3 separate regions of the Homo sapiens genome follow, and all the other regions are linked to region 1. Evidence: fine-mapped expression QTL. A gene starts in region 1. Each other region holds a variant in brackets. All regions are shown on one strand. Distances are between the middles of the regions.

Evidence for each region. PIP is the estimated chance that this variant, and not a neighbour inherited with it, causes the effect. A credible set is the group of variants that fine-mapping cannot tell apart.
Region 2: its variant is the best candidate, but not a certain one, in a credible set for the expression of FAM178B in sigmoid colon (GTEx, PIP 0.71).
Region 3: its variant is the best candidate, but not a certain one, in a credible set for the expression of FAM178B in cerebral cortex (GTEx, PIP 0.83).

What each region holds. Positions count from the first base shown.
Region 1 is chr2:96,982,274-96,992,284 of GRCh38, reverse strand. FAM178B (family with sequence similarity 178 member B) reads left to right here and starts at 5,705. Exons shown (of 17, transcript NM_001122646.3): 1 at 5,705-6,044. The coding sequence starts at 5,972. RefSeq lists enhancers at 5,627-6,147, 6,148-6,668.
Region 2 is chr2:96,046,515-96,056,525 of GRCh38, reverse strand. It overlaps LOC105373494 (a long non-coding RNA gene), which reads left to right. Exons shown (of 4, transcript XR_923085.3): 2 at 3,509-3,908; 3 at 4,123-4,400; 4 at 5,411-7,079. Among named protein-coding and RNA genes, the nearest start is that of GPAT2, 17 kb to the right of the region's middle. The variant C/A (reference allele first, on the strand shown) is at 5,442.
Region 3 is chr2:96,908,497-96,918,507 of GRCh38, reverse strand. All of the region lies in intron 12 of FAM178B (family with sequence similarity 178 member B), which reads left to right. Among named protein-coding and RNA genes, the nearest start is that of SEMA4C, 43 kb to the right of the region's middle. RefSeq lists an enhancer at 4,585-5,272. The variant G/T (reference allele first, on the strand shown) is at 5,916.

The DNA of each region.
Region 1 (10,011 bases):
GTTTGGGTCTGTGTCCCCACCCAAATCTCATGTTGAATTGCAATTCCCAATGTTCAGGGAGGGACCTGGTGGGAGGTGATTGGATCATGGGGGCTATTTCCTCCTTGCTATTCTTATGATAGTGAGTTTTCACGAGATCTGATGGTTTAAAAGTGTGTGGCACTTCCCCCTTCACTCTCTTTCTCTCTCTCCTATCACCATGTGAAAATGTACTTGCTTCCCCTTCACCTTCTGCCATGACTGTAAGTTCTTGAGGCCTCCCCAGCCATGCCTCCTGTACAGCCTGTAGAACTGTGAGTCAATTAAACCTCTTTTCTTTATAAATTACCCAGTCTCAGGTAGTTTTTATAGCGGTATGAGAGCGGAACAATACAGTAACCAACCCTCTGCTCACTGCCCCCTCAGATGCATTCTCCAAAATTGGTCTTATTTTAAACTGAATGGACTAGAAAAAAAAGAGACTTCTCTTCTTTTGTAATACAGCATGGCCCCAAACAATACCATTTTATTTATTTATTTATTTATTTGAGACGGAGTCTCGCTCTGTCGCCCAGGCTAGAGTGCAGTGGCGCGATCTCCGCTCACTGCAAGCTCCACTTCCCGTGTTCACGCCATTCTCCTGCCTCAGCCTCCCAAGTAGCGGGACTACAGGTGCCCACCACCACACCCGGCTCATTTTTTGTATTTTTAGTAGAGACGGGGTTTCACTGTGTTAGCCAGGATGATCTCGATCTCCTGACCTCGTGATCCGCCCACCTCGGCCTCCCAAAGTGCTGGGATTACCGGTGTGAGCCACCGTGCCTGGCCCAACAATACCATTTTATAATTAAACCTTTTTATAAAAGGAAAGGAAGGTCAGAAATTCCCCAAGGGCCCAGGGCAACCTGACATTATTCCTCCCTCTAACCAAACGGTTTTACATTAAGACAAGTCTCTGCCAGACGCAGTGGCTCATGCCTGTAATCACTTTGGGACTTTGGGAGGCCAAGGTGGGAGGCTGTCTTGAGCTCAGGAGACCAGCCTGGGCAACATAGTGAGGCCTTATCTCTATTAAAAAAAAAAATTAAAACCCACAAGTGTCTTAGAGACCAGTGACAAATGTGTTATGCCCATGTTGTTCAGAAGGGTTCAAGGGAATCTGATGTAATTCATGACACTGTATTAGGAAGTATGCCTCCCACTAACAGCTCTCCTTCTTCAAATCTAGTCCAAGGATCATTCCTCAAACCTCTAGAGCCTCTACTCCTTCTAGTGGTCCTTCCTCACCAGACTTGCAGTCTTCTACTGCACCTCCTCCATATCAACCCATTCACCCAGCACTCCCAGAAGGGCCCAGTCGCGCTAGGACACCCACTCAAACCAGAAAACAGGCTACTCCCTCGTAGGGAATTAACTAACAAAGAGGCAGGGACCATTCGAGTTCACATTCTTTTCTCAATGTCAGACTTAGCCCAAAGACTAAGCAGTTACCAGTTGATGTTATGCACTGCAGGGGACACCAAAGAGGGAACTCTACAACAATAAAAAAAAAAAATGATAATTTAGCAAATGCAACTGCTCAACAGGCTGTGTCCCTTCCATTTGTAGCAGGGGCTCCCATCCCAGAAACTATGGCTCCTGAGCTAGTGCCTGCACACACACAAACTGAAAGGGAGTGGGCAACTGAACAGGGATAATACCAAGACCCTAATGATGGTGGACCCAAAATTCAAATTTTTTTTTTTGAGATGGAGTCTTGCTCTGTCGCCCAAGCTGGAATGCAGTGGCACGATCTCGGCTCACTTTAAGCTCCGCCTCCCGGGTTCACGCCATTCTCCTGCCTCAGACTCCCAAGTAGCTGGGACTACAGGCGCCCGCCACCACGCCTGGCTAATTTTTTTGTATTTTTAGTAGAGACAGGGTTTCACCGTGTTAGCCAGGATGGTCTCGATCTCGTGACCTCGTGATCTGCCCACCTCAGCCTCCCAAAGTGCTGGGATTACAGGCGTGAGCCACCGTGCCCGGCCCCAAAATTCAAAAATTTTAATACCTCAAGGTCATCAATGCAAATTAATCAAAGGGGGTTACAGACACCTAGGAAGGGGCTCTCTAACGCTTTGGTCACATGAACCCTTAAGGGAACAGGCTTAGCTACTACTGTAAAAGCACACACTACAGCGAGACCACTTTACTCTATCAATAACCCAGAAAGGAAAATAAGGCCACTTCCATTACTGATGCCAGTACAGAGGAGAGGAAGGTACCCAGGGGAAGACAGACAGTTAGACTTTCCCTAAGTTCCACCAGTATAAAGATTTAAGCACTTACTGATCTCTACAGATACTTTCATGGGATAGATTGAAGCCTACTCCACCAAAACAGAAAAGGCACAAGTGCCTCTTAAAAGAAATCATTCCCCGATTTGGGCTACCTATGTCACTCCAAAGCGACAATGGCCCCTCCTTTGTTTCCAAAATAACCCAGCAAGTGCTACCACTCTAGGAGTAAGTGATCATTTACATGCTTCCTGGAGACCTCCATCCTCAGGAAAGCTAGAAAAAGCTACTTGTAAAGAAAACTCTGGCGAAGCTCTGGCAAGAGACTTCTGAGTCCTTATTAAAGTGATTGCCTCTAGCGTTCCTCCAAGTAAGAGCGGCTCCCAAGACCAATCTGCAACCCAGCACCTTTGAAATATTATATGGTCCTTTTGAGTCTTCACAGGGGTGCCTTGTAAAGGCATTAGAAAAATATACCAATGTAGATGCTGTCTCTGAGGCAGGTCAAATTCTTCTGGGGACTCATTTTATTAGTCAATCTGCTCCAGATATTAAGAGAAAGTTACAAAAACTGGCTGTAAGTCCCCAGGCACCAATGAATGAGCTAATTAATGTAGCCTTTGAAGTCTTCTATAATGAGACAGAGTAGAAGAGGCTAAAAAGTGAAAGAGGGAAGAGGCAAGAGACATAAACCAGGCCTCCGATTATTGGCCCTTGCTATCAGAGAGAACAAGCCAGTCCAGACCAAGCCCCAATCTGGGGACACCTGCTACACTTAAAACCAGGACACTGGCCCCAAAACTGCCAGACCAAGGGACAAAATGCCCAAAAGTCCGCTCCACCTAGACCATATCCACAATGCAGAGATGCCAGTCACCGGAAGCAGGACTGCCCCCAACTCCGTAGGGAGACAGGGGCTTCCAATTCCTTGATGGCCCTGACTAAAGACTGAGGAGACCCAAGGCTAACACTGGCTGTCATTCAGTCCCCATTACCACAGAGGAATCCAGTGACCCTGCACGTGGCAGGTGTAGCTAATTTTCTATTACATACAGGGACCAGCCTGTCAGTCCTTACATTCTGCCGTCGACCCTAGTAGGCCAAATAGGCCAAACACTGCACTGCCACGGGAATTGATGAAAAACCCGGACCAGATACTTTACCCAACCTTTTTACCTTTTTTTTTTTTTTTTTTTGAGATGGAATCTCACTCTGTTGCCCAGGCTGGAGTGCAGTGGCACCATCTCGGCTCACTGCAAGCTCCGCCTCCTGGGTTCATGCCATTCTCCTGCCTCAGCCTCCTGAGTAGCTGGGACTACAGGCGCCCACCACCACGCCCGGCTAATTTTTTGTATTTTTAGTAGAGACGGGGTTTCATCATGTTGGCCAGGATGGTCTTGATCTCCTGACCTCGTGATCCGCCTGCCTCGGCCTCCCAAAGTGCTGGGATTACAGGCGTGAGCCACCGTGCCCAGCCACCCAACCTTTAATTTGCAGACTCAAGGACGTGAATGCCTAACTCCCTTGTTGCTACCCTCGTTGGGGGCTTCTTTAAAACCAATGAAACCAACTGAACCCCTTCTCATAGGAGCACTCTCAAAAGCCCAGCTGACCACCATAACACACCATAGTCCAGAGAATCCAGGACATTGCCAGCTGGGTGCATCTCTCTAGGATAAAAACTGTTTCCCTTACGTTTCCACAGGACTCTACATCAACAACTAAAAATTAAAAATCCTTTTGTAAGCCTATAGAAGACCTAACATTCATTTTCAAGAAAAGATGCCAACACCCCAAATAAAGAGATTAATATTACTTTAACATAAGGTAGTCCCATCTCAGGTCTCCTATTTGTAGGAGCTCTTTTTGTTCTTCTGCTTGCTGAATAATGATGTGATGCTTCATTCTGCTACCTTTCATGGGACCTACAATAGCCATCTTATTACTACTGACCTTTGGTCCTTGCTTGTTTAAGCTCCTTTAAAGTCTGTGTCTTCTAGGTTACAACAATTCCTAGATTGATAGTTATGCAAGGATTTCAACTTATCCCAGTGGAGGATATGACCCCTATCACTTTAAATCAGGCAAGAAGAGACTTTCGGGCCCTGGTCCTGTCTCAGCACGAAGCAGCTCCAGAAAAAATGACCCAGCCCTCCACATTTCATAAGAACATGGACCCAAAGTCTCTGAGGGGGAAAATGAGGTCGGTTAGATACAGTGGTCATAGCCTCCTTTAAAGGGGAATGAACTTGCCAGATTGATGTAGAGAACAAACCGCCCACTGGTGCATAAACTGCATCAGGCTCCTAGTTAGAACATCCTGCAGCGAAGAGGATGAACAGCAGAAGGGAAAATCCCCAAATTCACACAAGTGCAGAAACCCATGATTAGAGTGTCCTTGGAATGACCTATGCTCATTTTAATGCTAAAAAACACACCCCTGGGTGAGGAATTAAAATGCTAATGAGACATGTGATGTGGTGTACTAGCACGCACATGCACATCTGGGAGACCCCGTAACATGCTTAACAGTAATGCCCATTCCCGCTCCTTTATGAATAATTATGTAAATCTCCCATAAAGGGAAGCTCATCACTGCCAAACAGACACAGCTATCTCACACGTGTGTGTGTGTGTGTGTGTGTGTTAGAGATGGGGGCTTGCTCTTTCGCCAGGCTGGAGTACAGTGCCACGATCTCGGCTCACTGCAACCTCTGCCTACGCCTCCCAGGCTCAAGTGATCCTCTCACCTCAGCCTCTGAAGTAGTTGGGGCTACAGGCACTGCACCACTATGCCCGGCTTTTTTTTTTTTTTTTTTTTTTTTTTTTTTTTTTTTTTTTTTTTTTTTTTGAGACGGCGTCTTGCTCTGCTGCCCAGGCTGGAGTGCGGTGGCGCGATCTCGGCTCATTGCAACCTCCACCTCCCTGGTTCAAGCAATTCCCCTGCCTCAGCCTCCCGCGCAACTGGGATTACAGGCGCACGCCAGCCACCAAGCCCGGTTAATGTTTTTTAATTTTTAGTAGAGACAGGGCTTCACCATGTTGGCCAGACTGGTCTGGAACTCCTGACCTCAGGCAATTCGCCCGCCTCGGCCTCCCAAAGTGCTGGGATTACAGGCGTGAGCCACCGCGCCCTGCCCACGCCAGGCTAATTTTTGTATTTTTAGTAGAGACGGGGTTTCGCCATGTCGCCCAGGCAGGTCTCTCACTCCTGGGCTCAAGCAATCGTCCCGTCTCAGCCTCCCAAAGTGCTGGGATTATAGGCATGAGACACCGCGCCAGGCCACTGTCTCACTGTCTTGGTAAATGCAAGCTACTACAAGTGCGCGTGACCCAGGACTGCCTGGGGGCAGGAGCTTCCGCCAGCCAATTCCCGCGCACGTGGATGCGCACGTGGAGGGCGAGCAGGAAGAGGGCGCGCACGTGGAGGGCTAACAGGAAGAGGGTGCGCACTTGGCCGGCGAGCTCCCCAGCTGGCGGCGGCGGCGGCTGTGAGCTGGCCGCTTGGTTTGGAGTCGGAACTCAATCCCCAGAACTGGATCTTTAGGTTCCACGTTGGCGGCCCTGGATCTAGGGACGCAACTCTTGGGGTCCTCCCACTGCGCCGCCTGGGGAGCCTGCTCCTGCTTCCTTTCCCGGCTAGCTGGCCCCGTCCTCTGAGGCCGTGCGAATTCCCGCCACCCTCCCTCACCCCGGAGCCCTGCCCTTCCCGCCCTATGTGGCCAAGGCTTCCAGGTGCGGGCCTCGCTCCACAACTCAGGAGGCAGGATCAGCGGCTCCATTTTACAGGTAAGGAAACTGAGGCCGAGGAACCGCAGGGGCGCGTGGTTAGCGCTCAGAGAGCACTCGACTTCCCTGGGACTCCTGGCTGGTCCAGGCCTTGCAGGTCAGCCCCGGTGCGGCCGCCGGGCTACTCTGGCGCTTTTCAGGTTCCTGCGACCCCGCGTGGTTCGGGTTCCGACGTGAGCCGGGCCCTCCTCTCCACAGGCCACTGCGCGGCCGGCCTTGGTGGGGTGGAACCTTAGATTGGTTTGAGAACTGGTTTATGTTTTGGTTGATGTGGCATGTTTTGTTTTGATTTTTAATGTTCCCCAGGGTGCAAAGGGTAGCTGGTGTTTTCTTTCCAGAAAGGCTTTCTATTCCCAGCCCCTGCCCGGTTTGATGGATGTGGAGTTTATGATGCTGGAGACCGTTTTCTTTGTGGGTAGAACGCATCTCCTTTCATCTTTCAAATTGTGAGCTCAGTCCTTGCTGACAGGAGCCGCTGCTCTCGCCAGCATTCCCAAGCTATTAAATATTTGTTTAAAAGGATGGATATAAAACATGATGTTAGGAATAAGGCGTCTTGAAAAAGCAGTATTCGCAGAAACAGCACCATTGTAATATTCTGAATTCATCTTGGCTCTTTTGACATCAGGGCCCAAAGCACTTGGGATTCCGTAATTATTTGGCCTCATGCTACACTTTAAGACAGATTATTTTATTTTTCTTGTAGTCAGGAAAGTAAAAGAACAAAAAAACTGAGATGACATGTTGAAATCTCACTGCGAGGACGCGAGGGAGGATGAGGGAAGCGGGGAGGGCGGCTGAACGCTAAAGGCTGGGGCTGGGGTTTGCAGGATTCGGGGAGACAAGAGCCCAGGCAGAGGGATGTGCTGGGCAGAGGGGGCGCCATCCATGGGCTGCATTGTAGAGTGAGCATGGCCAAGTCAAGGAGCTGAACAAGACGACTTCAGTCCTGAACCTGGAAAGAATGTGAGATGGAGGAGAAACAGGTCCTGGCTGGCGGGTATTGGGCCCCAGGAGGGAAAGAGATAACAAAGTTAAGTTTGGAGACTAACGCTGTCTCCTGTTTGACTGGGGGGCCTTCATATCCCCTCCCACGCTGTCAGGACACGTACTGTAGGCACTGGAGCAGGTCACACCAACTAGAATGATCGGTTTCCATCCATTCCGGGATGCATTTTTGTTCACATTTTAGCAGCTCTGAAGTTGGGCTGGGTCCCACAGTTTGTGTCTTTCTTTGTGTCATCGTTCACTTGGCAGCTTTTTGTCGGTCTTAGTGGCACAGAAAGTCACAGTGCCTTAAACCCAGCAGCATCTTAGCTGTGATGAAGGAGTCAGCCATGGCCTGAGTCCAGTAACTGCAGGATCCAGAGTTGGAGACGCAGGCAGAGAAGATGACCCACCTCAGCCTGCACCCTTTTGTTGTTTATGTCTTTGTCTTTGAAAGTGCTTGTTTCAAGGCATGTGAGGGAGGGGATTGGCAAAAGCAAAAACCTGGAAACAACAGATAGACAAATGAAAAATGTGTTACTTTGTGGTTGGGAGAGGGAAGAAACAGCTGGTAGCTGCATCTCCCTTCCAGGTAAAATTGGAATGCCATATAATCACTGGTAGATAGCACCTTTGAGTGAAAGGCATTTTGCAGCAGCTAGAGTCAGCTGCCCACTGAGCAGGCAGCCCTGGCCCAAGAGCCTCATAAGCAGCCAGCCAGTCTGAATACGCTGATTGGGCCAGTGAGCCCCAGGCTTCATCATCTGCTTGAGTCTTGGTGAGCCCTGGGTCTGTCCTATGACAGAAACTTCCTGCTGCTGTAAGCTCCTCTAGGGCAGAGACTGCATCTTCCTCATCCTTGAGGTCCCAATGCTCAGCATACTGCCTGACACATAGAAGATGCTAAATTGGGGTTTGTTGAGCGGGAACTGTATTGAACAGGTTGGGCAAATTGTCTTCCTGGTGGCGGAGTGAAAGTTTTTATGTACCACTTTGGCAGGGCACAGTGGCTCACACCCGTAATCCCAGCACTTTGGGAGGCTGAAGCGGCAGATCACAAGGTCAGGAGATCGAGACCAGCCTGGCCAACATGGTGAAACCCCATCACTACTAAAAATTAGCTGGGTGTGGTGGCACCTACCTGTAATCTCAGCTTCTCAGGAGGCTGAGGCAGGAGAATCGCTTGAACCCGGGAGGCGGAGGTTGCAGTGAACCGAGATTGTGCCATTACACTCCAGCCTGGGCAATAAGCGAAACTGTCTTGGAAAAAAAAATTCATAGCAGATTTATTCATAATACCTTGAAACAAGAAATAACTCAAATGCTCATCAACAGCGGAATGGATAAATAAGTAGTAGTTATTCATATGATGAAATATTGTATAGTAATAAAGATTACTGAACTGCTGCATGAACTACTGCTACAGGCATATAGCATGCAACAACATACATTTAGCAGTAGTTCGTGGATGATTTTCACATGCATAATGTTGAATAAAATATATGCAGAAGTGCACAAAATTGATGATTTGGCTGGATGCAGTGGCTCACGCCTGTAATCCCAGCGCTTTGTTAGCTGAGGTGACCAGATCACCTGAGCCTAGGAGTTTGAGACCAGCCTGGGCAACACAATGAAACTGTTTCTACAGAAAAATATAAAAATTAGCTGGGCATGGTGGCACATACCTGTAGTCCTAGCTACTCAGAAGGCTGAAGCAGGAGGATTGTTTGATCCCAGGAGGTTGAGGCTGCAGTGAGCTGTTATCACACCATCCGAGTCTGGGCAGCAGAGCGAGACTATGTCTCAAAAATATATATATATGATTTTATGTATGTGAAGTTCAAGAACAGGCAAAATAATCGGTGGTGATAGAGGCAGAGTAGTATAACCTTTGGGGTTATTGACTGGAGGAGGTACTTCTAGAATGTAAGAAATATTCAATATGTTGATCTGGTAATGGTTACCATATGTATGTATATGTGTATATATATGCACACACAGACACACATTTATACTAAATGTACACATATGTACATAAAAATCAATCATGCTGAACACTTAAGATTTGTGCATTTAGAGCCAGGCATGGTGGCTCATGGAATCCCAGCACTTTGGGAGGCTGAGGCAGGAGGATTGTTTGATCCCAGGAGTTCAAGGCTGACCTGGTCAAGGTAGCAAGAACCCTGTCTCTACAAAAATATTTTAAAATTAGCCAGGCATGGTGGTGTGTGCCTGCAGTCCTAGCTACTCGGGAGGCTGAGGCAGGCGGATTGCTTCGGCTCAAGAGCTGAAGGTGGCAGGAAGCTATGATGATGACAGTACACTCCAGTCTATGTGACAGAGAGAGACTATATCTCTAAAATAAAATAAATTAGACTGGGTGCAGTGGCTCACGCCTGTAATCCCAGCACTTTGGGAAGCCAAGGCAGGAGGATTGCTTGAGCCCAGGAGTTCAAGACCATCCTGGGCAACATAGCAAGAACCCTGTCTCTACAAAAAAAAAAAAAAAAAAAAAAAATTAGCTGGGCATGGTGGTGTGAACCTGCACTCCTAGCTACTCAGGAGGTTGAGGCAGGAGGGTTGCTTGGGCCCAGGAGTTCAAGGTTGCAGAGAGCTGTGATCATGACATTGCACTCCAGTCTACATGACAGAGACAGACTCTGTCTCTAACAAAAATAAATAAATAAATTAGGCCAGGTGCGGTGGCTCATGCCTGTAATCCCAGCACTGTGGGAGACTGAGGCGGGTGGATTGCTTGAGCTCAGGAGTTCGAGACCAGCCTGGGTAATATGGTGAAACTCCATCTCTACAAAAAATACAAAAATTAACCAGGCATGGTGGTGCACGCCTGTCGTCCCAGCTACTCGGGAAGCTGAGGTGGGAGGATGACTTGACGCTGGGAGGCAGAAGTTGCAGAGCCAAGATTGCACCGTTATACTCCAGCCTGGGTGACACAGCCAGACCCTGTCTCTAAAATAAA
Region 2 (10,011 bases), 940 kb after region 1:
GGAGCCCAAAGGCAGAGAACCAAGGGCTGCGGGCCTGGAGGGAACCCAGGGAAGCCTAGACAGCCAGAGGCAGGCAGGCAATTAAAGGAGGGGGTGGAGTTTTCAATTAACAGCTCTTCTGCTAGAAGCAGGTAATTAACGGATTAGCAAGGCTGTTAGCAAGGCTGCTTGCTGCCAGTGAGGAACCTGGCAGGTGCTGCCTTGGAGAAGGAGGACCAGGCTCCAGATTCCACAGGAAGGAAAGGACTCTTCGGAGGCAGGATCCTGAGGGCAGCTGAGAGTCATGGGACTCAGCAGGGACACAGTGAGCAGGCTGGAAGGGCGGGAGGCAGGCCAGAGGGGATGGGGCAGTATAATCCCACTGTCCCCTGGCCTCGCAGGGTCCCTGGTTTGCAGAGCCCTCTTTGCCTGGGATGGGCTAAGGAGGCAGTGTATGAGAATATCTGGGGGTCATGGTGTTGACACCCCTGGAATTGGCACATTACCACAGAGCTCACACGTTTTCACAGTGGTTTAGGGGGGAAGCTGCATAAGGCGGGGCTGACAGCAAGGACTTTGACATTAGACACGCTTCAGTTAAGCCTCGCTCCCACTTCCCAATCTAGGGGACTAGGGGATCCTCAGACAGCCCAGATGTTCCTCAGACTACTCAGCACCTTTCTAGTTAGGCAGGATCATGCCAAATTCTAAAGAAGCCAGTACGCACCTCCATCTGTGTCTTCCCCTGCCAGGGAGTTGGCAGAGGCCACTGTTCCAGACAGCAGAGCCTCAATCAGCCTGAATCCCTGAGCGACCTGCATGGAGCAGATTCCCTCGCCAGCCCCCATGAGTGGGAGTGAGAGGTAAACTACTGTGTTAAGTTATGAGATGTTTAGAGCTGTGTGTTACAGCAGCGTAACCAAGCCTACCCTGACTATTACACAGGGTCAACCTCACCTTTGTAAAATGGGTAAGAATGATACCACCTGGAATGATTATTGTGAGGTTGAGTGAGAGGATATATGACTTGGCTGAAGGGTACACTTAGCTCCTGGACCCCACACCCTCTCCAAAAGCAAGGAATGTTGCCATGGACCAAGAGCCAAGCCCAGGGACATTTGATTGGCCACTTCTAGCAGAAGAACTCCTGTAATGCTTAGCAAAGTGTTAAAGGGTTGAACACACAGGGGAGGGGCCTGACCTGTAATGCTTAGCAAAGTGTTTAAGGGTTGAGCACACATGGGGAGAGGATGGTGGAGGCCTGGGCTGTGCCCTCCGGAAATGCTTGGCCAGCTCCCTCTCTCTGGCTTCTCCAGTTCTCTTTTGTCCCCAATATGGGGAGAGAGGCTGGGGGCTGCTACCCCAAGTCTTGCTGGCTGGAGCCGTGAGCATTGCTTGTGGTGGTGCTGGGCTCTGGGAGGGCTTCCCTTGGTTCTTGAAGGCCCCAGGCCATAAGTGACTCTTGTGACCCCATTAGCAGCACAACTTTCCCTCTGCCCCCTCTGTCCCATAGCAGCCCCCAGCTTTGCCTCCTGTCCTGCCACACCTGGACCCCACCATCTTTCCGTCATAAGCCTCCAGCCTGTCCCCTGAGCTGGCCCCACTTCCCTCCATTTGGGAGAAGCCGTGGAAGCTGCTGACTGTTCCCCCCTCGTTTTTCAGCCTGTTCCCCACTGTTCATGTTTGGTCTACAACATCAAACCCATTTCTTTTTCAGCTGATCTCATTTCTCCTGAGTTTCTGATGCTCTGAGTCCAAAGCCTAAACAACCGTATTCTTTTCACTCTCCAAATACAAAGCCCTCTCACCCTGGCTCGGCGGTTGGCTCCCTGCTCTGAGCCAGCTCACCTGATCCTTTAGAGGAAGAATGTTCGAAGCACAGGCTTTAAAAATGTCCTTCCTAGCTTGTGCATATTCTATTTGCACTTCCCCACTCACTCAAGAAGATGCCATTTCCCCCACAAAGCTGGGAGCCTTAATGCCCTTCTCCAGCACCCATCCTGCCCACCGTGGCTGAGGTCACAGCTCTGGGCTTTGAAATGCACAAACACAATCAGAGGTCAACTCCTGTCATTTGAGGATCCCTGATTAGAAAAGAGCTTGATATACAAGCAGGGTATGTATGGAAATAAAAAAATTAGAAAAAAGAGAAATAAAACTGGACACACAGATCAGCAGGGGTTAGCGGTCTCCTTGTCATTGTCACAAACAAACCCCTGTTCTGGTTCATGCCAGCCACTGCCACCCTTACAACCAAAAGTACAGTCACTAGGCCTGTGCTGTCCAGGGCAGCAGCCACTAACCATGTGTGCCTGATGAGCACTGAAAAGGAGCTCAGAAATGTTGAGATGTGCTGTGTGTAAAATATACACTGAATTCTAAAACTGGGGATTAAAAAGAATGGGAAACACCTTCTCAATATTTTGTATATTGATGACACATTGCAATGATAGTATTTTGAATATATTGGGTTAAAATATGTTATTGAAATTAATTTTACCTGTTTTTTTTCTTTCTTTCTTTTTTTTTTTTTTACATGGAGTCTCGCTCTGTTGCCTAGGCTGGCGTGCAGTGGTGCGATCTTGGCTCACTGCAAACTCTGCCTCCCAGATTCAAGTGTTCTCCTGCCTCGCCTCCTGAGCAGCTGGGATTACAGGCACCCACCATAACTCCTGGCTAATTTTTGTATTTTTAGTGGAGACAGGGTTTCACCATGTTGGCCAGGCTGGTCTCGAACTCCCAACCTCAAGCCATCCACCCACCTCAGCCTCTCAAACTGCTGGTATTACAGGCATGAGCCACCACACCCGGCCTCTTTTTCTTTCTTAATGTGGCCACTAGAAAACTTAAGATCCCCATTGCAGTGCATGTTGTATTTCTGTCACACACCGTTGCACTGGGCACCACTCTGTCACTCCTGCCATGCGGAGTCCTGCTCTTGGAATGCCGTGTTTTTGTTTCTCACTGCTGCTGTAACAAATTACCACCAGCTCAGTGGCTCAGAACAACACACATCTATTATTTTGCAGTTCTGGAGGTCAGACTCTGACCTGGGTGTCACTGGGCTACAGCAAAGGCGTCATCGGGGCTGCGTTCCTTTCTGGAGACTGTGGAGAAGAATCTCTTTCTGTGCTTCTCTGAGCTGCCCACATGCCCTGGCTCACAGCCCCCTTCCATTTCCAAAGCCAGCAATTGTTGTGAGGCTTTCTCACACTGCGCACCCTCACGCGGACTCGCCTACCTCCCTCTTGCACATCCCACCTGAATAATTCAGGATAATCTCCTGACATCGAGGTCAGCTGATTAGTGACCGTAATCCCATTTGGGCCCTTAACTTCTCCTTGCCATGTAACCTAACATATTCATGGGCTCCAGAAATTAGGACTTGTACATCTTCAGGGCCCTTCTTCAGCTGCCCACATGCCAGTGCCCCGTGCGTGTGTTTTCTTGTTCTGTGCTAACTGGCCAGCTCTTGGAAATGACTGGTGTGGGAACACTTGCTTCATTTTCTCCCTGTTCTTGATTATAGTCCAGAGATCTGCTGGGGGATGGTGTGAGCCCAAAGAAGCCGATTTCCTTCTTGAAGGGGGTGAGAAGAAGGGAGACTGTGACTTGACCAAGCCAATCGGCAAACTACCTTCCCTCCCAACAGAAGTTGATTTGTTCAGGAGGGGGCATGTGACAAAAGCTGGGCCACTCAGAGCCCATCTAAGGACTTCACTGAAATGCTGACATAAAGCAGCCACTTGTGCCACAGGGGGAAAGCCAGCCTCAAATGAAACTGTCTCACAAAGAAATAGAGATGAATGACTTGTAGAGAACTGGAAACAGAAACAAAATGAAACTTGCAGAGAAAATATTGCAAGTAAATGTTGAACCTCTGGATCGAACCATGCCTGAGTCCCTCCTGGCTCTGACTTTTCAGTTAGGTGGGTCCACACATTCCCTTTTTCAGCCAAGCCATTTGAATGGGATTTTCTGCTCTTTGCAAAATAAAGATTTGCGATGACTTAGAGAGGGGTTAAAGCCATATTTGATCTGGACACATGAGAGTACCTGAAGCCTGTCCTCACCCAGCTGTCTCTTCCCACTGGTCTTTGAGGCACAAGTCCTAAAGGAATGCCCTGTCTCTCTTTCCCCCAGATCTCCAAGAGGACCCTCCTGCCTCTGCTTCTCTTCCTCCCCTGAAGTCAATTTTGCAGTGTGCTGGTCAGCCTCATCCAGCCCCTCTTTTCTGGGAACTGCTCTAACTCGATGGCTGGATTGACTGGCCAAGAGACAGACATCAGGGTGAGCTGGATCATCAGACAGTCTCTCCTAGGAATGTGAAATACGAATTCAGAGAGGCTGGCAGCCCATTGTTCACGGGAATGCAGAAGCTGTGAGGCTGAGAAACCCCTTTCCATCCAGAGGGAAAGAAGGTATAGTGGGTGAGGGGAGAACAGCAGAGGCAGGCAACCCTGGGGCCGGGGAGCCAGAAGGAGTGGCTGCCTCTGTCTCCAAGGGCTTGCTAGCTTGAGGTCAGGTCCTTCCTGAGGTCTGACTGCTCCTCTTGCCCATTGGGTCTGAAATAAATTAATTATCACCCGCCCTTTTTCCCTATAGATGAGTTGAATCAATTTCTATCACTTGACATCAGAAGAGCCTTGAATAAGCCACACTTCCCATTCCCATGCTTGCCCTAGGACCCATTGCCCCAGATGGGGAGAAGGCCAAGTGAGCACCCGGCCTTCAGGAACCCTCATGGAGGCAGTTCTCTTCCCCCACTTTCTGCCAGGCAGGAGAGGCTGCTGAGGCTGCAGCAATGACCTGGGCTGCCTGGGGTTACTGAAGGCAGCAGGAAGCAGTGTTGGGTTGAGTCCCAGGTTTCCGGACTCCACACCTGGTGGCCGACGCAGCTAGCTACCTAGTCCACAGCCATTCTCCCCTTCCTCTCCCTCAAAGCCAAAGGTGGTTACACAACACAGTACAGCCCATGACAGGCATCTTCAGAGTGGGGCTTCCAGGACAGCTACTGCTTTCCTGTTGGGCCTGGTGGCTCTTCACTGTACCTTTCCCCTTCCCTATATTCCTCCCTGGGGCACAAAGTTCTGCCTGAAGGTGTAGCAGCAGGTATTTGTGACCCTGAGGATGAAGGCACCTGGTGAGGATGTCAACACAGGGAGCTGGAAGGACCCTGGTCCCCTATAGCCTCACCACAGCCCCAGCAGTGGGACCATCATGGATCCTGACCTTTGGGCTTCTCATTACTCAAGGAATAGAAAAACCCCAAATCGTGTTTGCTTAAGACCCTCTTGTCAGGTTTCTAAGTCTTTATTATTTGCAATTATAACTGATAATTTCCTATGTCCTCTGGGAATTTGGGTCATGGGTGGAGTTTTCTGGCGAGAAGAAGGGCTCAGGGACTCTCTAATTTCATCATTTTGCCCAGGGTCCAGTTTCCTCTGAAGTTTGCAAGGACA[C/A]ATGGAAGGTCAGCAGAAACTTGGCCATCTCAGTGTCCTGGTGGGTGATTTTTACGAGGATTTCTCATCACAGAGGATGGGAACCCAAAGGAGAATGGCCGCCATTGGAGCCTTTCCTGTCCCTCCACTGCCCAGAACAACTGAACTCTGTGTCAGTTGGGCTGCAAGTAAAGAAAACTCAACTAATGGAGGCCTCATTGAACAGGAGTTCATTTTACTCACGTAACAAACCTATGTGGTCCCAGGATTGTCTCACGGCCCAGTAAAGGCAAAGCATGGCGTTAGCAAGTCTGAGATGTTCTTGAATTTCCCCCCATTGCTGCAAGATGGCCCCTACAGCTCCAAACATCACATCCTCAATGGTGAATAAAGCTGATCTCCAACTGGGAAGAACTTCTGTCTCCTGGTGTGGTGAAGGCTGTTGGAGCATCTGCAGGAGCATCCAAACCCTGTGCTATTGGGGTAGTCCATGCCCTTCAAGCCAGTCATGGCTTTCCTGTTTCCTCTGTCAAATACTGGCTAAGGATAGGTCTGTGATGCAATTCTGGCCAGTGAGACATGATGGAAGAGCTGCTGGGTGAAATTCTGGGAAAAGTTCCCTTACTCTTTAAAAGATGGATCCAGGAGAAGAGAGTCTCTTTTGCTGGGTGTTGTCATATCTGGAGGTGATGCCTGGAACTGTGGCAGCTGTCTTGTGATTATGAGGGAAGCTGGCCTGAAAACAGACTGGCCCACTGAAGAGGAGGGCAGCATGGAATGTGGAATAAACCTGGGTCCCTGTTGGCTTCCTGCGGCCCTGATCTAACCAGCCCTGAGCTGTCCTACCTCTGCACTGCTTGGCACAGGAGACACATCTTGATTGTTTAAGCCCCTTTGAGTTGGGTTTTCTGTTCCTTGCAGCTGACAGCACTCTAACCAATCCACACATTTCCCTCTGCTCGATTTCCTGCTCCAGAGAGACAGGCACAGACCAGTACCGGGCAGCCCCACTCTGGGGAAAAACAACAGTGCTTATTGTTTGCCGGCACAGTGGGAGCTCTGCCTCCTGGCACAGTGGGAGCTCTGCCTCCTGTGGCAGGCTGGCCATTCCAAAACCACACTGCCTGCCACTGCCATAAAGAGGCCAGGACTGTGTTCAAAACCCCAGGCAGCAGGAGGAGTGGTTTGTGGGAGGTGTTGTGGTAGTGCATAAAGGAAGGTCATTTCCTGACCCTCAGAACCCACACTGCCCTCAGCCCCACACAGCCCTACCCAGCCCAGCATCGCCCCCAGTGCCCCTGGAGACAATAATGGCAGCCACCCACTGGCTGCTCCTGTGCGGGCAGGGCAGGAAAGCTGGTGGTTAAGTGCTGGAGAACCCCCAGGCCCTGGGGCTTGGCCGGAAAGGATTTCTGTAGAGACAGCGTGGACATTCTGTCCTCTGCAGGCCGCCTGGTACAGGATGAAAACAGGCCGGCTCAGTACTTTTTTGGCAACCGATTATATAGATTTGCATCCACATGAGCTCCCTCTTGCAATGACCCAGACCCCCACGAGGGCTCTCCCCACAGTCATTTGTGTTGAGAACGCTCTGAGCCCTTGAGCCTCCTTCCTCTCTGGGAAAGGGACTTTTTGGCAGTGAGAAGGACCTGGAGGGAGGCACTTCTGGAGGCATTTCCTTTCTGGGAGGAAATGCTCCAGGGCTCTCCTCCATCCACCAACAGCCTCCAAGTTGAGTAAGTGGCAGCGAAGGTCACGCCTGAGCTGGCAGCCATGGAACCTCACCTCCTGCTTTTCCAGCTTCGTTCCCAAAGACGTCCCTCCACGAGCTTGTGCTCATGCCATGCCTCTGCTGGAAGCCCTTGCTGTCTGCAGGTGGCGATGTGACCCGGGCCTGGCCCTGGGGATTTGTTCAGGCGTGTCACTCTTTCTGACCAAAGGGGACCAGCCTTGGGGCTTTTGTGGAAACCTCTGAGAAAGGGAGGTCCACAATTCTGGTTTCCTAGCTGGAGAGAATACGCCTGGCCCTGCTGGCAACCATCTTTCCCACCCAAGGGAGTCAGCCTGGACATTTTAGTCACTTGAGTCAATAAATTCTGTTTGCAAAGAAAAAAAAAATCGCTTTGAGCCGGGCTTTCTGTGGCTTACAGTGGAAACTCATTAGTAATATAAATGCAGATATCCCTCTTAGGCCAAAGTAATCTCTCCTTTCTTGCTTGCTCTATACCACACACACCTGCTTCATTGGCATTTACTGTTTCCCCACCTGCACGGGTGACCTTAGCCCCCCTGCACAAAGGCCTGGACGTCGCTGCCTCTGCAGCTGCCCCAGATCCAGGTGCCGTTAATTTTACCCTCAAGTTGCGCTGAACTACTCAGTGAATTATTGTTGGTCCAATAAAACCACTTTTGTTTTATTTATTCTTTTATCTCCACACTCACTCCCATTCCCTTCCCCTGCATGGGCAACATGCTCCCCATAGATTCCCCCACCTCCTGTGCTGCTTTAAAAATGCTCTTTCAAAAGAGATACAGTCTTTATGTGTTTTTTAATGTCTGCAAATGGTAATGTTTGGGTTCCCATGTTGCTTCTTCCTTTTTAAACTCAGCCCTGTGTTCAGGCCCATCCATGTGGCTATGTGTGCCTTTCATCTCTCCTTGTGGCTGCATAATTCTCCATGGTGTGGACCATTCCCATTTTGTCTCTCCATTCTCCCCAGGATAGAAACCCTAGGGTGCCTCCCGCAGCCCCCATCCCCACACTACCACAAAGAACTCTGCAGTGAACATCTTGGTGTGCATGTTTGACGAATCTGTGTCAATTTCTTTTACATCTCTACCTAGAAATGGAATAGCAGGGGTGTAAGGGATGCATACTATTGATCAAAATCCCTCCACAATGGTGGCTCTGGTCTATACTCCACAAGCAGTGCCCTCATCAACTTCCCCACTTCCCCACCCAACATGAAGACTTCTTTTTTTTTTTCTTTTTGAGGCAGGGTCTCACTTGTTGCCCTGGCTACTTACAGGTGCGATCATAGCTCACTGCAGCCCCAAACTCCTGGGCTCATGGGATCCTCTCACCTCAGCCTCCTGAGTAGCTGGGATGACAGGCATCTGCCACTGTGCCCAGCTCCAATACTTGTCTCTTCCTAGATTAGTTTTGCCTAAAAGATTGCATTAGTTTTCTACAGCTGCAGAACAAGTTAACACAAATTGTGTGGCTTAAAACACCATTTATTTTTCATCTCCCATTTTCTGTGGGCCAGGATTCTGGGCTCGGCTTAGCTGGGTGCTCTGCTCAGACTGTAACCCGGTGTTGGCCAGGCTGCATTCTCATCAGAGGCTCCACTGGAGAAAGATCTGATTCCAGGCTGCCTCAGGTGGCTGGCAGTATTCATCTCCGAGTGGTTGTAGAACTCAAGGAGACTTGCTTCTTCAATGTCAGCAGGAGAGATAGTCTCATACCTTTACATCCTTTTTTAAAGGGCTCACCTGATTAGATGCACCCTGGATGATGTCCTTTTTCATTAACATAAAGTCAACTGATCAGGGACTTTAATTACATTGGCAAATTCTTTTCCCCTTTTCCATATGGCACATCATCACCTTTGTTAGAATCTATTAATTAGAAGCACATTTACCAGGAGAGGATTACAGAAGTGCTTGCCTATTGGAGTTCAGCTGAGAATTTTGCCTACCATGTATGTATAAGGTTGTATCTGGTTCAAATTGTAGTAAAGCACACAGAACATAAAATTTCCCATCTTAACCACTGTTAATTGTACACTTTAGTGGTATCAAATACTTTCACATTGTTGTGCAACCATTACCACCATCCATCTCAAGAACTCTACTTTTGTGAAACTGAAACACTGTGTCCAATTAGATACTAACTTCCCATTCCGTTTTTGCCCCAGCCCTTGGCAATCATTCTATTTTCTGTTTCTATGAATTTGATTATTCTAGGTATCACATGTAAGTGGAATACTGTCTTTTTGTGACTGGCTATTCCACTTAGCATAATGCCCTCAAGGTTCATCCACGATGTAGCCTATCACAGGATTCTCTCCCTTTCTAAGGCTGAATCATATTTTATTGCATGTATAGACCACATTTTGTTCATGCATTCGTCTATCAATGGACACTTGCTTCCACTTTTTGGTTCCTATGAATGCTGCTGCTATGAACTTGGATATACAATATCTCTTTAACATCCTGCTTTCAATCCTTTTGGGAATACGTCCAGAAGTGGAAATTCTTGGTCATACGGTAATTCTATTTGAATTTTTTTTTAGGAATGGCCATGTTGTTGTCCACAGTGGCGGCACCATTTTACATACCCACCGGTAGTGCACAAGGGTCTAATGTCTCACTCCTCACCAACACTCGGTATTTTCGGGTTTTCTTGACAGTAGCTATTCTAGTGGGTATGAAGTGCTATCTCACTGTAGTTTTCATCTGCATTTCCCTTATTCTGGGTGATTCTCAGCACCTTTTCTTGTGCTCATTGACCATCTGTGTATCTTTTTTGGAGAACTATTTCCTCATATATCTTATTGTTAGAATGTGTATTTCTGTACTAATGATC
Region 3 (10,011 bases), 74 kb after region 1:
TATTCCCAGTTTTGTTTTTGAGTTTTAGTCAATCTGGTGAGTGGAAAACATCATCCTGTGGTTCTAATTTTCATTTCCCTGATTGCCAGTGAAACTGAGTATCTTTTCATGTATTTATTGGCCTTTTGTGTTTCTCTTACTGTAAATTACCTTTTGGTATTTCTTACCCACTTTCCTATCAGTTAATTTATCTTCTTATCAACTCTGTTGATCTTCATGTTGCTTATTATGTTACAGTATGTTTTCTCCAAAGGTTATATAGATTGTCCTTTTTAAATCTTTATGTATGGTACCTTTCAGTGAACTGGAATTTTTTTTCTTTTTTTTTTTACTTTTTCAGTCCTTTTTTTTTTTATTTTAGAATAGATTTAGATTTACAGGACAGTTTTATGGATAATGCAGAGAATTGATTGGGATTTTTGTGTAATGTAATCTTTCCATGTGGAAGACGAAGGGTTTCCCCACCAAGACCATAAAGATAGTGTGCTTTCTTCTCTTTCAGGACTGGCTTTACTTTGTGTCCATCAGCTCTTAATCCCAACTCAAATCTGTTTGTCCTTGGTATGAGAGAAGGATCTAACTTGATTTTTTCCATCCCCAAACAGCCAGTGGGGACCCAACGTCAATTTTTCTGCCTTTTGTTTTGTTTTTTGAGAGAGGGTCTCACTCTGTCACCCAGGCTGGAGTGCAGTGGTACCATCATGGCTCACTGCAGCCTCGACCTCTTGGGATCAAGTAATCCTCCTGCCTCAACCTCCTTAGTAGCTAGGACTACAGACAGATGCCAACACACCCATCTAATTTTTAAATTTTTAGTAGAGACAAGGTCTCCCTATGTTGTGCAGGCCGATCTCAAATCCCTGGGCTGAAGTGATCTTCCCACTTCAGCCTCCCAAACTGCTGGGATCACGGGTGTGAGCCACCATGCCTCAGCTTTTTGGTCTTAATAATTCATCCTTTCAAGACAGATTTGAAGCTACCTTCTCCATATCCTAAGTTTATGACTTCACTCCTTCATCTGCTAGCCATGTTAAACTGTGATTTCATGAATCAGTGTCTTTTGTGGAATCTGTGGGTAGCTCCAGGGCCCATGGCAATTGCCCTTTAAATGCCAGGAAATGAATGAAACAGAGCATCTTGCGCCTGCCTTTCAGGCAGCCACGTCAGCAGGGTGATGCTTTGTGCCAAGAGCTTTACTAGGAAGGAGGGTGCCTTATCGGGATCAGTGTTATTGATTTTATTTTTCTAAATAGATAAAAGCATTCAAATAAAACAAAATTCGTAAGGTACCAAGGAGTACCTTTTTGAAAGTACTCCTTTCAAATTTGATGTTGAAAATGCGCTTCTTCCCCTGAGCCAGAGCCACCTGGCTGGCCGCCAGCCTCTGTCTGCGTGTGCACGTACCCGCCGTTTCCGCACCTTCTTTGCTCTTCAGGGTGTGTTCTGGCCGTCATCCCTGATTGGGTTGTAAAGGGCTCCTAATTCTTTTTTCCTGCCGCGTTGTACTCACTGTGGGTCTTCAGTGAGCTGCTGCTCCACTGTGCTTCCCGCGGCGGCCACAGAGCTTACTGGCTGCCTTCACTGGTGGCTGCCCCACTGGGCTCTGTGCCCAGACTGACCCCAGGAAGAAGGGCAGATTGGTGTACGAAGGGCTGTCACACTCTTTGTCTGCTCGACTGACTGGTTAAGCACAAAGCGAGAACTCCTGCTGACACTCATGCAGTACACCCGCAGCCCCTGCCTCAGCGTTCAAGACTTCATGGGATGCACTGCAAATGTAAGGAAGAGCTGGGCCTAACCATGAAAAATGAAAGTGAATACTAAGGCAGACCACCTGAAACAGAGCCAAGGGGAAGAGGAGGTTCTTGGAGGAACATCCACCTTGGGAGGTGGCGCCATTGGGGCAGCTCAGGCAGCTTTGGGAAGAGCAGCATGCCATCCCCACTTCTGTTCAGGGCTCCTGCAACTGCTTGCACTCTACTGAAAGCTGATGTCCCAGGCTCTGGGGATCCTCTTCCTTCACTGCCTGCGGCTATTCATTAAACATCCTGTGTGCGCTGCTTCAAAGCAGAAGGTCAGATGAAGCCAGCTCCCGCAGGCTGCCTGGTCAGATGGAGGAATGGACAAAGCCTGCGTAAAACGGCTCACGAAACCAGCCCTGACAATGACGTAGAGTTCCTTGCCTGGCAGACCAGAATCAATCCGAAAGGACAGTGCTGCCCAGTGTTGGCAGGATGTGAGGAAACAGGCATATGCTTCCCTGCTCATGAGATGCGGTCAGTAGTCCCTCTGGAGGCCAGTTTGGCAAAATCAAGCAAATGACTTTAAAATGTGCACACCCTTCAAAAAGCTAGATCGTTTTCTGGGGAACTAGATGGCAAAGATTCATTGACAAGGATGTTTGGCATAGCAATGTCATGATAGTGAAGAACTGGAAATTGCCTCAGTGCCCCACCATCGATTCAGTTCTGCCCGTGCTACGGAGTATTATATGGTACCTAAAAATGATGTCACAGGAAAATGGGAAAGTTAATGAAATACGCTGAGTGGAAAAAAGGCTTTGAAGCCATATGTAAAGTGTGATGCCAATTCTGTTTAGGGGAAAAGAAAGGCCATCTTTGGGTGTGAGGTTAATAGGAGTGTTTTTGGTTGCCTAGGGCTTATTTCCCCCTTTCTTTTTTTCTTTTTCTTTTTTTTTTTTTCCCACTCTGTCGCCCAGGCTGGAGTGCAATGGCACAGTCTCAGCTCACTGCAACCTCCGCCTCCCGTGTTTAAGCGATTCTCCTGCCTCAGCCTCCCAAGTGGCTGGGACTACAGGTGCGTGCCACCACACCCAGCTAATTTTTGTATTTTTAGTAGAGACGAGGTTTCTCCATGTTGGGCAGGCTGGTCTTGAACTCCTGACCTTGTGATCTGCCCGCCTCGCCCTCCCAAAGTGCTGGGATTATAGGCGTGAGCCACCGTGCCCATCCTCTTATTTCCCCTTTCTAAAGACCCTGTCGGCCTCCAAGCTCCTGCTCTTACCCCCACAGCCAGTTCTCACCAATTAGCCAGAATCACTTCTATTTAATAAGTTTTTAAAGTTTTGTTGGCTGGGTGCGGTGGCTCACACCTGTAATCCCAGCACTTTGGGAGGCCGAGGTGGGTGGATAACTTGAGGTCAGGAGTTCAAGACCAGCCTGGCCAACATGGTGAAACCCCGTCTCTACTAAAAATAGAAAAAAAAAAAAATTAGCTGGGCATGGTGGCATGCACCTGTAATCCCAGCTATTCAGGAGGCTGAGACAGGAGAATCATTTGAACCCGGGAGGCAGAGGTTGCAGTGAGCCGAGATTGTGCCATTGCACTCCAACCTAGGAGGCAGAGTGAGACTTCGTCTCAAAAAAAAAAAAAAATTTGGTTATAGATAATTTCAAGACATATACAAACGTTGAGAGGCTAGTAAAATGGACTCCATGTACCCATTTTCCATCTCAGCAAACACAGCCGTGGAGACTCCTCCTTCCCTCACCCATTGCCCCCCACCCCTGCCCCACATCATTGTGAATCAGAGCAAATGATTAGACTTATTTTATTCAGTACGTGTCTCTAAAAAGATAAGGTCTTGGTGGTTTGTTTGTTGTTGACAGAATCTCTTTCGCCGAGGCAGGAGTGCAGTGGTGCCATCCAGGCTCACTGCAGCTTCGACCTCCTGGGCTTAAGTGATCCTCCTGCCTCAGCCTCCCGAGTAGCTGGGACTACAGGCATGCACCATCCCACCTAGCTAACTTCTTTAAGTTTTTGTAGAGACAGGATCTCCCTGTGTTCCCCAGCCTGGTCTTAGACCCCTGGGCTCAAGTGATCCTCCCACCTTGGCTTCCCAAAGTGCTGAGATCACAGGCATGAGCCACAGTGCCCAGCCCTTGGTGGGTATTTTAAAACATAATTACAACATTATGATGACACCTAAAACACTGAACCATAAAAGAACTGTCATAAGCAATTGAGTCACTTCCCTGCTCCAGAATCTTCCAAGACTTTGCATCATCTTGGAAGGAAGCCTGGAGTCTTTAAGGTGGCCGCTAAGGCCCCTTTGCGGTGTGGCCCTGCCCTCTGCTCTTCTTCTCCCTGTCCCTGCGGTGCACTGGGCACTTGTGTCTTGATGCCCACCCTCCCTCATGCCCGCACGTTGGTAGGAGACTCCCCCCTTCTCATCATGGTGGTCTCTGCTCACATGTCACTGCCTCAGAGAGGTTTCACCTGATCCTTTTTTCCAAATGAGCTGCCACCTCAGGGCTCTGCACAACCTCCCTTTCCTTCATTTTTCTCCACGGACTACCAGGACCAGAAGTGAACTATGACCAGCCCTCCCCATGAGTATGAGCTCCCTGGGCGGGAGGGCCCCGTCCATCTCCCCCATGTCTGCATCCTCAGCACCCAGAACAGAGCGTGGACTAGAATATCACGGGTGCTGAGTAAATATTTGGCAAATAAGTAAAAGCCAACAATGTTTGGCTCTCTTCTGATCTCTTCCTGTGATGGAAATACATTGAGGTTTGCGGGGGGTGTGGGCTTCCTTCCTGTGTTGAGGAGGCGTCTTCCTCGCACCCTCCTCTGCACAGAAGCCGGGAGTCAGGCACTCCTTTGTTCCACCTCTGGGAGCGAGACCCAGGCCTAACCACTTGGATGCTCCTGAGGAAAGGACTCAGGGACGGCAGTCCTCACAGGCTTTTCTGGCCAGGGACCCTGCTGCTCCACACCCCTTGGCCAGGTTCTCCATCTTCCTGTGAATTCTGGAGCACCCCAGGATCCTCTCAGTGTTCTTATGTCTGGAGCAGCCAGCCAAGCAGGTTCTGTGTGGCCACCAAGGAGGAACTGACTGATGGAGCGGAAGTGCAGACAGGCTAGGGAGAGAGCAGCCTCACGCTCGTCAGGTCCTTGCGCACTGGGGATAAGAGCTGGGACAGGCGCAGATGCACCGTGGCTTCCCTCGAAACCCTCGTTTCCCTCCCATTTTGTTCACTTCCTCACTGTGGGGCCAGAGGGCCCCACCTTTCCTTCTCCCCTTACCACTGCCCGGCCCTGGGTCAGCTCCTGGACCCCTTCTCCACTGTGGACTCCCTGCCTGCCTGTTCTCAGACTTGAAACTGCACGGCCAAACAGTGATGCCACATGCATGTCCCTTGTCCCCACCTTGGCTCTTGACCCCTTCAGGCTGCCCGGAGCCACAGCGAGTTCCTGGCCAGCCTCCTGGGGACCTTAGCAGACTCCATGCTTCCTGCTGCTGAAGCCTCTGCACTCCCAGCGAACAGCCACCCCCACTAGACAAACGCAGTGCTCTCAGTTCTCACCTCCCTGCTGCCCACTGCACCCTTAATTCTGGATCCTGGCAGTCCTGCCTCTCCCAAAACCTTCTGCAGTCATCCCTTATTCTTGTACCGTTTGCTTTTTGTTCACTAGCTTTCTCTGCAGCAAATAAATGCGTTCCTGCGTCTCCTACCTTAAAACAGCCGTTCTGTCTCCACCCACATCTCCCTCGAGCTCCTGCCGCAGCTCCAAGCTTCCTCCCCCAGTTCTCTTTCACTCATGGCTGAATCCTGCCCACCCTCGGGCAGGTTGGATTCTTCGGAGCTCAGAGTGTCACAGAGAGCTCTCACTGTGGGCGGGTGAGGCCAGAAGGTCTGGAAGGAGGCAGTCAAGGCCCAGTCAACCTGGAGATTTCAGAAGGGCACCAAACCTGGAGGAAGGAACAAGAGGCAAGATGAAGGTCGCATCCGGAGCCTGGGCTGGAGCTGGGAGGCAGACAGCAGCGTGAAGGTGGGCGGCGGTCAGGCCATGATCGCCAGGAGGGGGACATGGCTGGAGAGGACGCGGCTCCCTCTCAGGTGGGATGTCTGAAGGACCTAAAGGGCCAGGAGCTGAGGAGACACCTCTTG[G/T]GGCACCAGGCACTCCAGCCAAGCTGCTCCGTCACCAGGGACCTCTCGGGCTCTTCCTGATGAGCAACCAGCACTTCCTTCCCTGGGCTTCCCAGGGCCCTCCTGGCTTCCTCAGCTGCCCTCAGGGATACCCCTCCCCCACCAGCCCTCGAGTCTTGGTGGGCCTCAGGATTCCACCCTAGCCCTTACTGTGACACAGGCCCATGAAGTCGGGGGTGCTAGGTGCCCCCCACTTGCCCCGATCCAGGACTGGGGCACTCTTTCCACTGCTGGGGGTGGCAGAGGAGTCACCTCTGCCAAAGGTGGTCACCTTACCAGGGCTGGGCCCCTTCCTTGGCAGCAGCCCAGTGCTGAGACACAAAGATCTTCCCCGTTGCCTTAGTTGAGGATGTCTCCGAAGGACCCTGCTGGCTCCGGAGTCCTTGTGGGGTCAGCTGAGGCCTTCACTGGCTGCGTGGCAGCCTGGTTTCCTTTGTCTCTCCCCGCATAAATTCCCTGCATCCTCTCTCCCTACGTAAATTCCCTGCTTGCTAATATCCATTTCAGAGCCTACTTTCTGGGGAAGCCAGCCTGAGACACCATCTCATCTGCACCCGAGGCCTCAGCTCCAGGCACATGCTAGCAGCTCCCAAATGAATACCTGTGGCCAGACTTTGCTGCTGAGCACCTATCTGTGTGGCACATGTCTGGGATTCAGCATGTGGGAAGCAGGAGTCACCGCCTTCCCAGGAGGACCCCTTCCCTGTCTTCCATGGCTCCATGAGTGGCACCAGTGTCTGCCCACTGCCCAGGCCTGGAGTCCTATGGACAGATTCGGTGCCCTGGAGCTCCCCAATCTCCCACAGTGCTCATTCCTCCTCACCCTCCCTGTCGCTGCCTTGGTGCAGCTCTTCCTGCAACCCCCTTGGATTTCCGCCAGAGCATCCCACTGTCTCTTTCCAGGCTTTCTCCACCAGCTCCACCTTGTGCTGTCCCGGAGTGTGACCGTCCTTCAGATGCTCATGTGTTCGCATTGCTGATGTGCATAAAATCTTTCAGACTTTCCCCCTCAGGGTGAAATGCCACGGTGCAGCCTGGGGTTGGAGGGCATTGGTGCCCCCTTTCCCAGGCTCACATGCCACCCTGCTCCCTGCAGGCTTCCACGCTTTTGCCGCGTCCTAGAACTTGGCAGCCACCCCAACTCAAGATGATCATTTGCCTCCAAGCTTTTCCGCATCTGTCTCCTCCTGGAGAGGCCTCTTCCCATTGTCCTCCTCTGCCTGGTTCACATCTCTTCAGCCTCAAGACGAGGCTCCGGCCAAGGCATCTCCTCTTCGAGCAGCCCTTGTTGCAGGCCCATCAGGCTGTCCCCCTCACTGACGCGGGCCGTGAGCATCAGAGGGACAGGTGCTGTGGCCGTACTCCCTGAGTCCACAGAGCCTGGCATGGCAGGGGGACTCACTCAGCACACTCGTGCTTTGTCTGCTTCTGGAGGGTAGATTTCAAAGAAGCATAAAGAGGTAGAACTTAAAAAAAAAGATTCTAGGGCCAGGCACGGTGGCTCACACCTGTAATCCCAGCACTTTGGGAGGCTGAGGCAGGTGGATCACTTGAGGTCAAGAGTTCAAGACCAGCCTGGCCAACATGGTGAAACCCCGGGTCTACTAAAAATACAAAAATTAGCCGGGCATTGTGGTGTGCACCTGTAGTCCCAGCTACTCAGGAGGCTGAGGTTGTTGTAGTGAGCCAAGATCACGCCACTGCACTCCAGCCTGGGCGACAGAGCAAGACTGTCTCAAAAAAAAAAAAAAAAAAATTAAGAAGAGAGATGTCTCAGGTGGGCTGGGAGATCTTGCACTGAAGCTTTGAATATGGATTACAAAGGAGCCCAGTGAGGAAAAGAAGGGAAGCATTAAAGGCTGCAGGGGCTCCCCTCAGAGCTTGTTCGTGGTCTCAGGTTTGGAAAGAAGGGCACCAAAGTAAGGTAGCCGGACAAACGGCGTGGACCAGCGGGAGTGTTGTTGGGAAATGCCGAAGGCCATAAAAGGAGTTTCTGTGTAGTTACTTTTGAAGCAAGGAGTGCGGTTTGGGGCTGACAGTAAAACGTTAGCCCTGATGCAGACGGAACAACACTACACAATTCGTATTTTGCTTTTGCCGTCTTTGTCAAGGAGAACAGTTTTTCATTTGGAATCAAATATTGGTCGTCGAAGGGGGTTAAAGCCTAAGAGAGTGTGGGAGGCTGCATGACCAACCTCACTGTGCAGAGGAGGCCGTCTCCCCGGTGGGACGGCGTCTCACTGCTCCTGGGAGACATGAAGTTGGGGCCGTGGCTCCATGGGGACTTTTGGAGGCGGAGGGCTTCCAGGAGATGGGGGCAATGGTGCTTGATGTGCTCCTCCAGGTTATTCTCTAGGGGATTCCGGCTTGGGAGCACATACGTAGAAAAGGAAACACTGCTTTCTAGGAGTCCTAACAAGAAATCATACCAGGCAAGCCTCACTTTTCCACAGGTCAACCAGAATCATACTCCAGAGAGGACTGTGCAGTGCCTGTATGTAGGTTTCCTGGGCATTTGGTAGAGGCTGTCACCATAGGCTGGGTTCGGCATGAAGGAATGCGGGTCAAATGATGACAGAATGAAGTGGGCTCATTATCAAAAGGTGCTGCTGGCCATCAGAGTGTGCCCAGAGGGCAGGCCCTGTCACCACCCCGAGTTCTGTCTCCACTCACAGGTTGGCCAGGGCAGGCCCAGTGTTTTGGATGAGGCTATTAATGGAACAATGGTCAGATTCACAGATGACATGAATACAACTGACAGCAGACCGAAGATCCCAGAAGATCTCAACAGACTGTAATGATGGACTGAGTTGAAAAGGGAGGCCCAGCTGCACAATTAAGAACAGGATCTGGGAAATGGGATTTGACAGCAAGACGTGTGAAAAAAAAAGACTTTGGGCTCAATCTGTTAACTGCGTTGTGTTGTGGGGCTGCCAAGAAAATGAGCATCAGCCTCAACTCCGAGTGTCGCACTTGAAAGGGAACATTGACAACCCCCAGGGCCGTCAGAGGACCCAAACCAAAATGGCAAAAAAAGATACAAAAAGATGGGAATGAGGGGGCTGTGGCACCTGCAGGAAGGGGCAGCCACGGGAATGTGGCAACTTCTTCCAAGCGTAGAGGACCTAGGTTGGCGGAGAGCTCCCTCCTGGAGGCCCCAGAGGACAGGATCCAGAAGCTTTGAGTGGAAGTCCCAGAAGGGCAGGTTTTGGCAAAATATGGGAACGATTTCCTTTGGTTAGTCCGGTAAATGAATTTGGGCTGTCTTGGCAGATACTGCACTTCCTTTGCTGAAGTGAACACTTATTGGGGGTGTGGCAAAGAGAATTAAAATGGATAACTATGCAGAAGCTAGATTAGGTGACTTCAAGGTGTTTTCTTTTTTCTTTTTTCTTTTTTTTTTTTTTTTTTGAGACAGAGTCTTGATCTGTCGCCCAGGCTGGAGGGCGGTGGCGTGATGTCGGCTCACTGCAACCTCTGCCTCCCAGGTTCAAGTGATTCTCCTGCCTCAGCCTCCCAAGTAGCAGGCATTACAGGTACCTGTCACCACACCCGGCTAATTTTTGTATTTTTAGTAGAGACGGGGTTTCACCATGTTGGCCAGACTGGTCTCGAACTGACCTCAGGTGATCCTCCCACCTCAGCCTCCCAAAGTGCTGGGGTTACAGGCGAGAGCCACTGCGCCCAGCAGACTTCAAGGTGTTTTCTAAGCCTGAGGTTCTGTGATTTTTATCATACAAAGAGGGAGATGAGAATGGAAGTTGGTATGATTGTTCATGTGTACCTTTTAATTTACTTATAATACGTGTGAATGGAAGGACCCATATCATAGGTGGACACTTCGTGCCCTTTGCAAAAGAGATCATCCATGTACCACCTGACCATGGGACAGAATGTCTGCCGCTCCCCAGAAGCCCCATCAGGCCCCTGCCAGGCGTTCCCTCCTGCAGAGGTAATCACTTTCACAGCTTCCATCACATAGATTCATTTTACCTGTTTTGTTGGTTGGTTGGTTTTTGAGAGATGGGGTCTCCCTATGTTGCCCAGGATGGCCTCG